3 separate regions of the Homo sapiens genome follow, and all the other regions are reported to be linked to region 1. Evidence: microRNA targets listed by miRTarBase, many of them from high-throughput screens and not tested one by one. Region 1 holds a microRNA gene; each other region holds the end of a gene's coding sequence. Distances are from middle to middle.

Region 1 (3,197 bases):
GGAGGCTGCAGCTGACGGGCTGAGAGGACATGGGGGCTGCAGCGCAGCGTGCACGCCACCACCAGCAGGTCCCACTCTTGCTCTCGAGTTCTAGGGGTCTGCTACTCATCTGGGCACGCACACCCACACCCTCTGGCACGGGAAACTGGCACCAACTTGGGGGCCCTCTCAAAAAGCATTTTGATCCTGCCCTGAGCAAAGCTGGTCACCTAGAAACAGAAGCTGCCACCCCTGCCTCCCTGCCCAACCACAGAGGAGCACACACTCACTAGGACACGTAGTAGACAGCCACATTTCTCCTCACAAAGGCGCTGACAGGTTCCCTGTGGGGCACAGGAGGACAGGAGTAGTCACCCTGAGGCTTGTCTGCCCCACCCAGGCCAGCCAGGCAGCCCTGGCTTCACCTTCTCTAATTGCCCATGGTCACCCTGAGAGCAGGGCCCACCGCCACCCACACCCCCAGCAGGTGACCCTGAACCCCCAGGGCAGTAGGAGTGGGTGGCAAAGCCTAGAGACTTACACAAAGGTGAAGATAGCAATGATGGCCACAGTGATGAGCAGCTGCACGGAGATGATGGAGTAAACCTGGACACAGACGGCCGGGCATGGGTCACCATCCGGCACCCCTGGCCTGCCCCAGGAAGCTGCCAGCCCCCAGTACTTTCCTCCCACTCAAGAACCCTCCCTAGCTGCAGCCTGGCCCAGAGGCGACCCCAGTGAGATGCCTGGCTCAGAGGCAATGTGCACTTCTTCCTCAGCCCCGCTCCCATGCTCCCTGCCATCTCCCCTCCTGTCCAACACCAGCCTCGGTGACTACTGACTTGCCCTGCCTGGCCACCATACTCTACCAGTATGGCCTCTGCACTCCCAGCAGCTCAGTCTGCACGCTCTATGCAGCTGTGAGATGGAGAGGGTGGGTTACAAGCGAGTAGGATCATTTCTGGCTCCAAGCTGCCTATAGTCTAAAGGGAGAAAGATGTCTGGGGAAGGCGGGCGCTGTGGCAGAACCCACCTAGGAGATTCTCCCAGACTGAATGTGTCCTCCCAAAACATGGTCAAGAAGAGAGGTGCAAAAAGAGAGGGAACCCTGGGGTTAGAGAAGCCAGGTGCCCCTCTGAGAAGCAGACAAGGCTAGAGAAGACAGGCAGCCAGTGTATTTCATGGAATTGATGCCCTGGGGCTACTGTGGCCTACCCACTTCCCATTCCCACAGCCTGAGGGGCCCCAGGTACACCCACCTCCCAGCGCGTATCTTACCTTTCGGATAAAAGTGTGTCGCACTTTCCGGTCATCCCACTCTCCAGGCCCGAAGCTATCACTCACTGCTCTCTCCTCCCCATCATAGCCATGGCCTGGGCCTAGGGACAGATGACACTTGACTCAGCTGGGGACCTGAGACATGTGGCGTCAATCCCAAAGCCTCCCTGACAATCTCAAAGTCTCAGGGATCTCCAGCCAAAAGACAAGTGTTATAACAGGAACTCTTCTCCCAAGCTGGGGTCTTCTAGACACCCTCAGAGTGACCCAGAGCCGGCCTGTCACGAGGGGGCTTAGGTGGGAAACGTTCCTCACGTGCATCTGTGGAGGGCTCCTGTGTGCCCAGCCCACGCCACTGGGGGTTCACTGGGGGGTCACGATGTAGTGGGGAAGCCAGGCAGGAGCAGGTATGGGCATCCACTGGGGCAGCCAGCCAGGGCAGAACAGGGGATGGGGACAGAGGGTAGGAGAAAAGGAGGGCGGCAGAGCGCAGTTTGTGCAGCAGCAGGGATAGAGGTGAAGACAGGGATCTGCATCAGCCTCACAGAGGCAGGTGTGCAAAGGGTGTGCGTGACTGTGCAGGACCCATGCGCAGATCCGCACCAGCGCACATGTCCAGGTGAGAGCTGGCTGACACCCCTCTGGGGTTCAGAGATGCTGCAGGGCTGCAAACATTCCCTGAATGCCTGAATGCCTGAATGCCTCTTTGGGAACTACTTTTAAAATCCACGCTTGAGCCACCCAGGAAGACTCACTGCACTCTAACTTCACCTCATTTCCTTTTTTTTTTTTTTTTTTTTTTTGAGATGGAGTTTCGGTCTTGTTGCCCAAGCTGGAGTGCAAAGGCGTGATCTCGGCTCACCGCAACCTCCACCTCCCGGGTTCAAGCAATTCTCCTGCCTTAGCCTCCTGAGTAGCTGGGATTACAGACGCATGCCACCACGCCCGGCTCATTTTTTGTATTTTTGGTAGAGACAGGGTTTCACCATGTTGGCCAGGCTGGTCTCAAACTCGTGATCCGCCCATCTCAGCCTCCCAAAGTGTTGAGATTACAGGCATGAGCCACCGTACCCGGCCTCTTTTTTTGTTTTGTTTTGTTTTTTGTTTTTTTTTTGGTTTTTTTTTTGAGACAGAGTCTTGCTCTGTTGCTCAGGCTGAAGTGCAGTAGTGCGATCCTGGCTCACTGCAACCTCCACCTCCTGGGATTGCAAGCGATTCTCCTGCCTCAGCCTCCTGAGTAGCTGGGATTACAGGTGCACGCCACCACACCCGGCTAAGTTTTTGTATTTTTAGTGGAGATGGGGTTTTGCCATGTTGGCCAGGCTGGTCTCGAATTCCTGACCTCAGGTGATCTGCTCGCCTCAGCCTCCCAGAGTGCTGGGATTACAGGCGTGAGCCACCGCGGCCGGCCTCACCTCATTTCTGACCAAACACAAGCATGTCCCTGCCATGATGTTTACCAAACTTGGCTCCAAATGTCTTTTGCAAAAGTCAGATTTCACTTTAAAGGATGAGGAAAGTGGTTCAGGTTCCCAAAGGAGTTCCTAAGGAAGTCGACAGGTCTGGGAGGTGGCAGCAGCTTGTTGGCCGCTTGTTGGGAAACAGAGCTGGTGCCCTGAGGTAACCCCTCAGGAGTCATTACTTGGCCCAGCCCCATTCTCCTGTGGTGTGTACGTTCTGGGACATGCCTCATGGATCTCCTTGAACAAAGGGGGCAGCAAGTGGCTGGGGGCCAGTTGCTGAGGCAAAAAGTGGAGGGTAACAAAGACAGAAACAGAGGGAGAGATCTCAACAGAGAAGATGAGAAAGGGATTTAAGGGAAACTAGAAGAGAAAAGGGGCAGGAGGCGGTGGCCTCATCTGCTCCAAGTGCTGTCCCTCCCACCCACCTTCCATCTGCCCTTCCAGGACTCACCGTAGTTCATGGGCATCGGGTGGGTG
Region 2 (3,000 bases), 120 Mb from region 1:
TTTTTACTGTTTTCCCCAGAGCCTGTCACATGAGGTCAGGTGTGGAACGTTGCAGTTGTGGTGTCATGTCCGTGCTCAAAAAGTTTCAGATTGTAGAGCATTTTGGATTTCAGATTTTTAGATTAGGGATGATCAATCTACAGTACAGATGCTCCTTGACTTACAGTGGGTTTACATGATAATGTCTCTTGTTTGACTGAAACATTATAAGTAATATTTGATTTATTTCAGATGCTGCAGGTGTTTGAGAGCTAGATGAAGGTATGTTGCCAAAATTTATGAATTAAATTCAAATCATTGATTTCTGAAATAAACTCTAAGTAGTGAACGGTATTCCCTCTCAATTGCTTGGTTAATAAATGCTACATTAAATATTTTTTCTTACACACATCTAGTGAAAGATGTGAAAACATAAACATTCATAGTGAAGGGTATACTTATGCTTTGTTAATTCATCATGTTTCATAGCTTTAAAAAAATCGCAAGAAATCTGTGTATCCCTTTTTTTCTGGCCCTACACTTTTCTTCTGCCACCCCTATAGACTATCAGCCTGCACACTGAAACTGTTCTCACAAAACAAAGGCATTATCAACTTCTCAAGGTTAAGGTAGTGATTTAAGGCTAACAGACCCCACACTCATGTGATAATAATTAGTTAAGCAATTACAGGTCACAAGCAGTCACTTGACCAGTGACATTTTAAATCTCTAGTCATTGACTTTGTCATTGGTTTACTTTTGCCCCTGGGAAAAGTTGAAAATTCCTTAGCATGGAATCAAAACTCTCACATCAGTGTGGTTCTTGTCAAGTTATTCAGCCTTATCTTTCGCCACTTACCATACTCTACACCTTTGTTCTAGCATCCAGCCAAACTAGACTACATGGAGCTCCACAGTGATCGTCTTCACCTCCAGCTGTTTGCATTTACTTCTTCCCTCTATCCTACATGTGTTTTCCTTCCCCTTCAGATATCAACCTATGAATTGCCTCTACCAAAAAGCCTACAATATTGACACAAACCTGGGCTAGTATCCCTTCTATGTCTTCCAATAAGTGCTGTCTTATGCTTGTCATTGTATGTATGACTCTGTATGGGAATTGCCTGTTTGTTTTTTCAGATTATAGCATACAGTTGTTGAGGGGCGGACCGTATCATCTTTATCTTGTAATTCCAGTGCTTGTCCTAGTACCTTAGCACATGGTTGCTGAATACATGAACGAAGAGTGAGAAACCAGAAGCTCTGATACTTAACTGCCATGATAATGAATTCGGTGTGCAACTATGGGCAAATTATATTTAATAGTAATTGCATATTGTACATATTTTTCATTCTTATTAACACTGATAAGCTTTTCAGCATATACTGACTTTCTCTTAGTTAACTGTGAAATCATTTAGATAAAGAATATAATTCTTTTTCATTCTAACTTCTGAATTTAAATCTGAATCCTCTATAGCAGGGGTCCCCAACTCCCAGGCCACACACAGTTCCATGACCTGTTAGGAAGCAGGCTGCACAGCAGGAGGTGAGTGGCAGGCAAGCGAGTGAAGCTTCATCTGTATTTCCAGCCACTCCCTGTTGCTCACATTATCACCTGAGCTCTGCCTCCTGTCAGATCAGCAAAGCCATTAGATTCTCACAGGAGTGAAAATCCTACTGTGAACTGCTCGTTCAAGGGATCTAGGTCACATGCTCCTTATGAGACTCTAATGCCTGATGATATGTCATTGTCTCCTATCTCTTCACGATGGGACCATCTAGTTACAGAAAAACAAGCTCAGGACTCCCATTGATTCTCCATTATGATGAGTTGTGTAATTATTTCATTATGTATTACAATGTAGTCATAATAGGAATAAAGTGCACAATAGATGTAATACGCTTGAATCACCATCCTGAAACCATCCCCCAAACCCCCATCTGTGGAAAAATTATCTTTCACAAAACTGCTGCCTGGTGCCAAAAAGGCTGGGGACTGCTGCTCTATAGCTTCTGCACTAGAATCTACTAATGAGTAAAATTTAAATCAATAACTAGTTTTAAAAGCATAACAAGAATATGTGCTGTCTGGCTGCAGTGGCTCATGCCTGTATTCTCAGCACTTTGGGAGGCCAGTGCAGGTGGATCACTTGAGGTCAGGAGTTCAAGACCAGCCTGGCCAATATGGTGAAATCCTGTCTCTACTAAAAATACAAAAATTAGCTGGGTGTGGTGGTGCATGCCTGTAGTCTCAGCTACTCGGGAGGCTGAGGTGGGAGAATCACTTGAACCCGGGAGGCAGAGGTTTCAGTGAGCCAAGATCGTGCCACTGCACTCCAGCCTGAGCAACAGAGTGACTCCATCTCAAATGCAAAACAAAACAGAAAGAATACATGCTGACGAAAAAAATCTAAGACAATAAAATTGTATTACTAGGCTGTTAACATGATATTTTGTTTCCCGTTAAATGTGTGACATGCAAAAGTATTTATTAAATGAAAATATTTTTTATCTTTTATGTCTGATGAAAATTTATATCGTGTTTTAAATGATGTTTCTTGGCCTCTTTAACTTTTTATTTTTTTATTATTTTTTTTTTGAGACGGAGTCTGGCTCTGTCACCCAGGCTGCAGTGCAGTGGCGAGATCTTGGCTCACTGCAAGCTCCGCCTTCTGGGTTCACGCGGTTCTCCTGCCTCAACCTCCCGAGTAGCTGCGACTACAGGTGCCCAGCTAGTTTTTTTTTGTATTTTTAGTAGAGATGGAGTTTCTCCCTGTTAGCCAGGATGGTCTCCATCTCCTGACCTTGTGATCTGCCCACCTCGGCCACCCAAAGTGCTGGGATTACAGGTGTGAGCCACTGCACCGAGCCTGAAAATCTTACTACCTAAATAACTTCCCACTCCACTCACACCCACAATCTTTCTATAATCCACATTCTCTCCTGAGACAAGAGCTTGGGAAGTTCCGTCTTGCTGAGGGAACTTTATATTGTTCAGGAATTCTTTAATAAGGTTTT
Region 3 (3,000 bases), not on the chromosome of region 1:
GGATTACAGGTGTGAGCCACCGCACCCAGCCAATTTTGAGTATTTTTAAAAGAATCCCTGATGTCATTCTTCATAGTATTTTAACATGTTACTCTTTCTTGTTTCAGGTAAAATATGCAATATACGTTGTCTTGAGAAGGTTGATGCTTTTGAAGAACGACATAAAAGTTGGGGAATTGACTGTCTTTTTGAAAAGTTATATCTACTTACAGAAAAGTAAATGAGACATAGATAAAATAAAATCACACTGACATGTTTTTGAGGAATTGAAAATTATGCTAAAGCCTGAAAATGTAATGGATGAATTTTTAAAATTGTTTATAAATCATATGATAGATCTTTACTAAAAATGGCTTTTTAGTAAAGCCATTTACTTTTTCTAAAAAAGTTTTAGAAGAAAAAGATGTAACTAAACTTTTAAAGTAGCTCCTTTGGAGAGGAGATTATGATGTGAAAGATTATGCCTATGTGTCTTGCAGATTGCAAGATATTTTACCAATCAGCATGTGTTACCTGTACAATTAAAAAAATATTTCAAAATGCAATGCATATTAAATATAATACACACAGAAAAACTGGCATTTATTTTGTTTTATTTTTTTGAGATGGAGTTTCGTTCTTGTTGCCCAACCTGGAGTGCAATGGTGCAATCTCAGCTCACTGCAACCTCTGCCTCCCAGGTTCAGGTGATTCTCCTGCCTCAGCCTCCTGAGTAGCTGGGATTACAGGTGTGCGCCACCACGCCCAGCTAATTTTTTGTATTTTTAGTAGAGACAGGGTTTCACCATGTTGGTCAGGCTGATCTCGAGCTCCTGACCTCAGGTGATCTACCCACCTCGGCCTCCCAAAGTGCTGGGATTACAGGCGTGAGCCACTGCACCTGGCCTGACATTCTTTATGAAATTTAGAATTGTTGAAGAACTATAACATTTCAGTAGGGTTCAAGGTGGTCCCAAAAGTTATATAAAAGATTAGTTTTTACTATAAACCCTTGTCTTTTACTCAGATCCTAGCATCCCTTTTCACATGGTTTCTCCATGTATATAACAGAATCAAGAAACAAATTTTAATTAAACAATCTGTAACAGAATCAAGAAACAAATACATTTTAATTAAACAATCTATATGGAACAAACATTCCCAAATTCTAAGAATAAATTTTTCTTTAAGTTTTCTCTGAGTTTGGCAATTGTTGTTTTTTATAATTTAATCTGTTTAAATCATCAGGTCTTATAAAATATAATGTACTTAGAGCTGGATTCATGGCTGTTTATTATGAAAGGTTAGATTTCTCAGTTCTTCTTTAACCACATTTTGTTATATCAGACAGTCCTCTATAACTCTGTACTACCCAACAACTAAATGGTTTAGATTGTTTAGCTCATGTTAATAGGATGGTTGTGTATTATAAAAAACGAGTTACGTGTGTGTGTGCACGCATGCACGCACATGTGCTGGCTTAAAGGTTGTTAATGCAAGGTTTGGGGTCCCCTTTAACACTGGTGAAAGCTACGGTACTCTCCCCAGAGATATGTCTTGTCAGCCTCTCTAGTTCCCCTTGGCCTGCATGTACAAACTTCTACCCTAGAAGCTCTCTGCCATCGATGTATTCTAATAGATTTGTAAGGCTATTAATTTGAAGCAACTCCTTGCTCACAGTGATTCTTGCTTCTCTGAGACCTGCTCCCAGTCGATACTGTGGGCTTCAGAAGCCATGACTCCCCAACTCTGCCTGTATCACCGGTTGAATGGACAACTAACCCGAGCTGGACCAACACAATTCTCTCCAGAGACTTTTGATTTTACTTTTATGTAGAGACAGGGTCTCACTTTGTTGCCCACGCTGATGTTGAACTTGACGTGAGGCCTCAAGCAGTCCTCCTGTCTTGGCCACCCAAAGTGCTAGGATTACAGGTATGAGCCATTGCGCTGGCCCTCTTCATAGGCTTTTGGACTTGGGAATAGAAAAGCAACCCCGTCTCTACTAAAAATACAAAAAAATTAGCCAGGCGTGGTGGCACGTGCCTGTAATCCCAGCTACTTGGGAGGCTGAGGCAGGAGAATCACTTGAACCTAGGAGGCGGAGGTTGCAGTGAGCTGAGATCATGCCACTGCACGCAAGCCTGGGCAACAGAGCAAGACTCTGTCTCAAAAGAAAGAAAAAGAAAAGAAAAAAAAGAAAGGCAAGTTGACTGCTGAAAGGGGAATCTGTGTACGCCTGGGAGCTGTGGGGCAGCCACATTCCAGCACATGGATCTGAGAAACAGAACGCTGATCTGCAGAAAGAGATGAGAACCAAAGAGAGGCCACCTGCGTCCTGGGTCCATTTTCATCCTCCCTGAAGCCCAGCTGCCCAGGGTGGGGAGAAACACCCTGTGTCCATGGGATAGAGTCCTTTCCGCTTGCAGTTGTGCCCAAAGAATCTTAAATACAAATGAGATATCCTTAGGTAGTTGATCATTTATGTAATATGTGTCTTCACTGGGGAATACTGACTTCCTAAAATCTCAAGATGGAAGATATACCACATGTAAATTATTTTAGAGCAATTAAATTGTTTTCAGGATTTTCCAAAAATGCTTCTTGTTTCATTTTATTATTTAAGTAACAGATTATCTGAGCCTCTGTGCCCTGCACACAGTGGTTTATAAATGCCTTGCCCTGCCTATGAAGCAGGCATGAATGCTCCAGTATAGACAGTGTTATCACTAGCAGACAGGACAAAGTAAGAAAGGTACGTAATAATTAATCTATTTGGGTGAATGTGGAAAGAAAAATACAAAGAAATATAACCAAAGCTTAAACAGCTATCACTGGGAAGTCAGAGATTTGGCTCCATAAAGAATGGTTTAGGGACCACAGAAGGTGGCCCAAAAGATGTACCTATGAGAGAGCTCCCAGCTGACGGGATTCATTGGCAGCATGAAGTGACAAATACAAATCTAAGCCATGGAGATATTAGTTCAAGCAATTTACCAAGTCGCAACTGTAGTACATACC

What was found. Region 1 holds the annotated microRNA hsa-miR-6513-3p (UCAAGUGUCAUCUGUCCCUAG, at 1,359-1,379, opposite strand). A microRNA usually pairs through its seed, bases 2 to 8, with sites in the 3' UTR of a target mRNA and lowers its output. Matches are read on the target gene's strand: a 7mer-m8 pairs with bases 2 to 8, a 7mer-A1 pairs with bases 2 to 7 and ends in A, and an 8mer does both.
Region 2: miRTarBase lists ANKRD36 as a target of hsa-miR-6513-3p. The part of its 3' UTR that is shown has no 7-base or 8-base seed match.
Region 3: the mRNA of TPMT is a reported target of hsa-miR-6513-3p. Seed matches in the 3' UTR shown: 7mer-A1 at 2,065-2,071.

What each region holds. Positions count from the first base shown.
Region 1 is chr2:218,278,769-218,281,965 of GRCh38, forward strand. It overlaps MIR6513 (microRNA 6513), which reads right to left and starts at 1,420; the gene lies at 1,357-1,420. The region is part of intron 2 of PNKD (PNKD metallo-beta-lactamase domain containing); the gene reads left to right. TMBIM1 (transmembrane BAX inhibitor motif containing 1) reads right to left here. Exons shown (of 12, transcript NM_022152.6): 2 at 3,172-3,197; 3 at 1,258-1,358; 4 at 521-585; 5 at 270-323.
Region 2 is chr2:97,249,913-97,252,912 of GRCh38, forward strand. ANKRD36 (ankyrin repeat domain 36) reads left to right here. Exons shown (of 76, transcript NM_001354587.1): 75 at 232-261. The coding sequence ends at 255. Among named protein-coding and RNA genes, the nearest start is that of ANKRD36, 140 kb to the left of the region's middle.
Region 3 is chr6:18,127,888-18,130,887 of GRCh38, reverse strand. TPMT (thiopurine S-methyltransferase) reads left to right here. Exons shown (of 9, transcript NM_000367.5): 9 at 108-2,577. The coding sequence ends at 220. Among named protein-coding and RNA genes, the nearest start is that of NHLRC1, 6.7 kb to the right of the region's middle.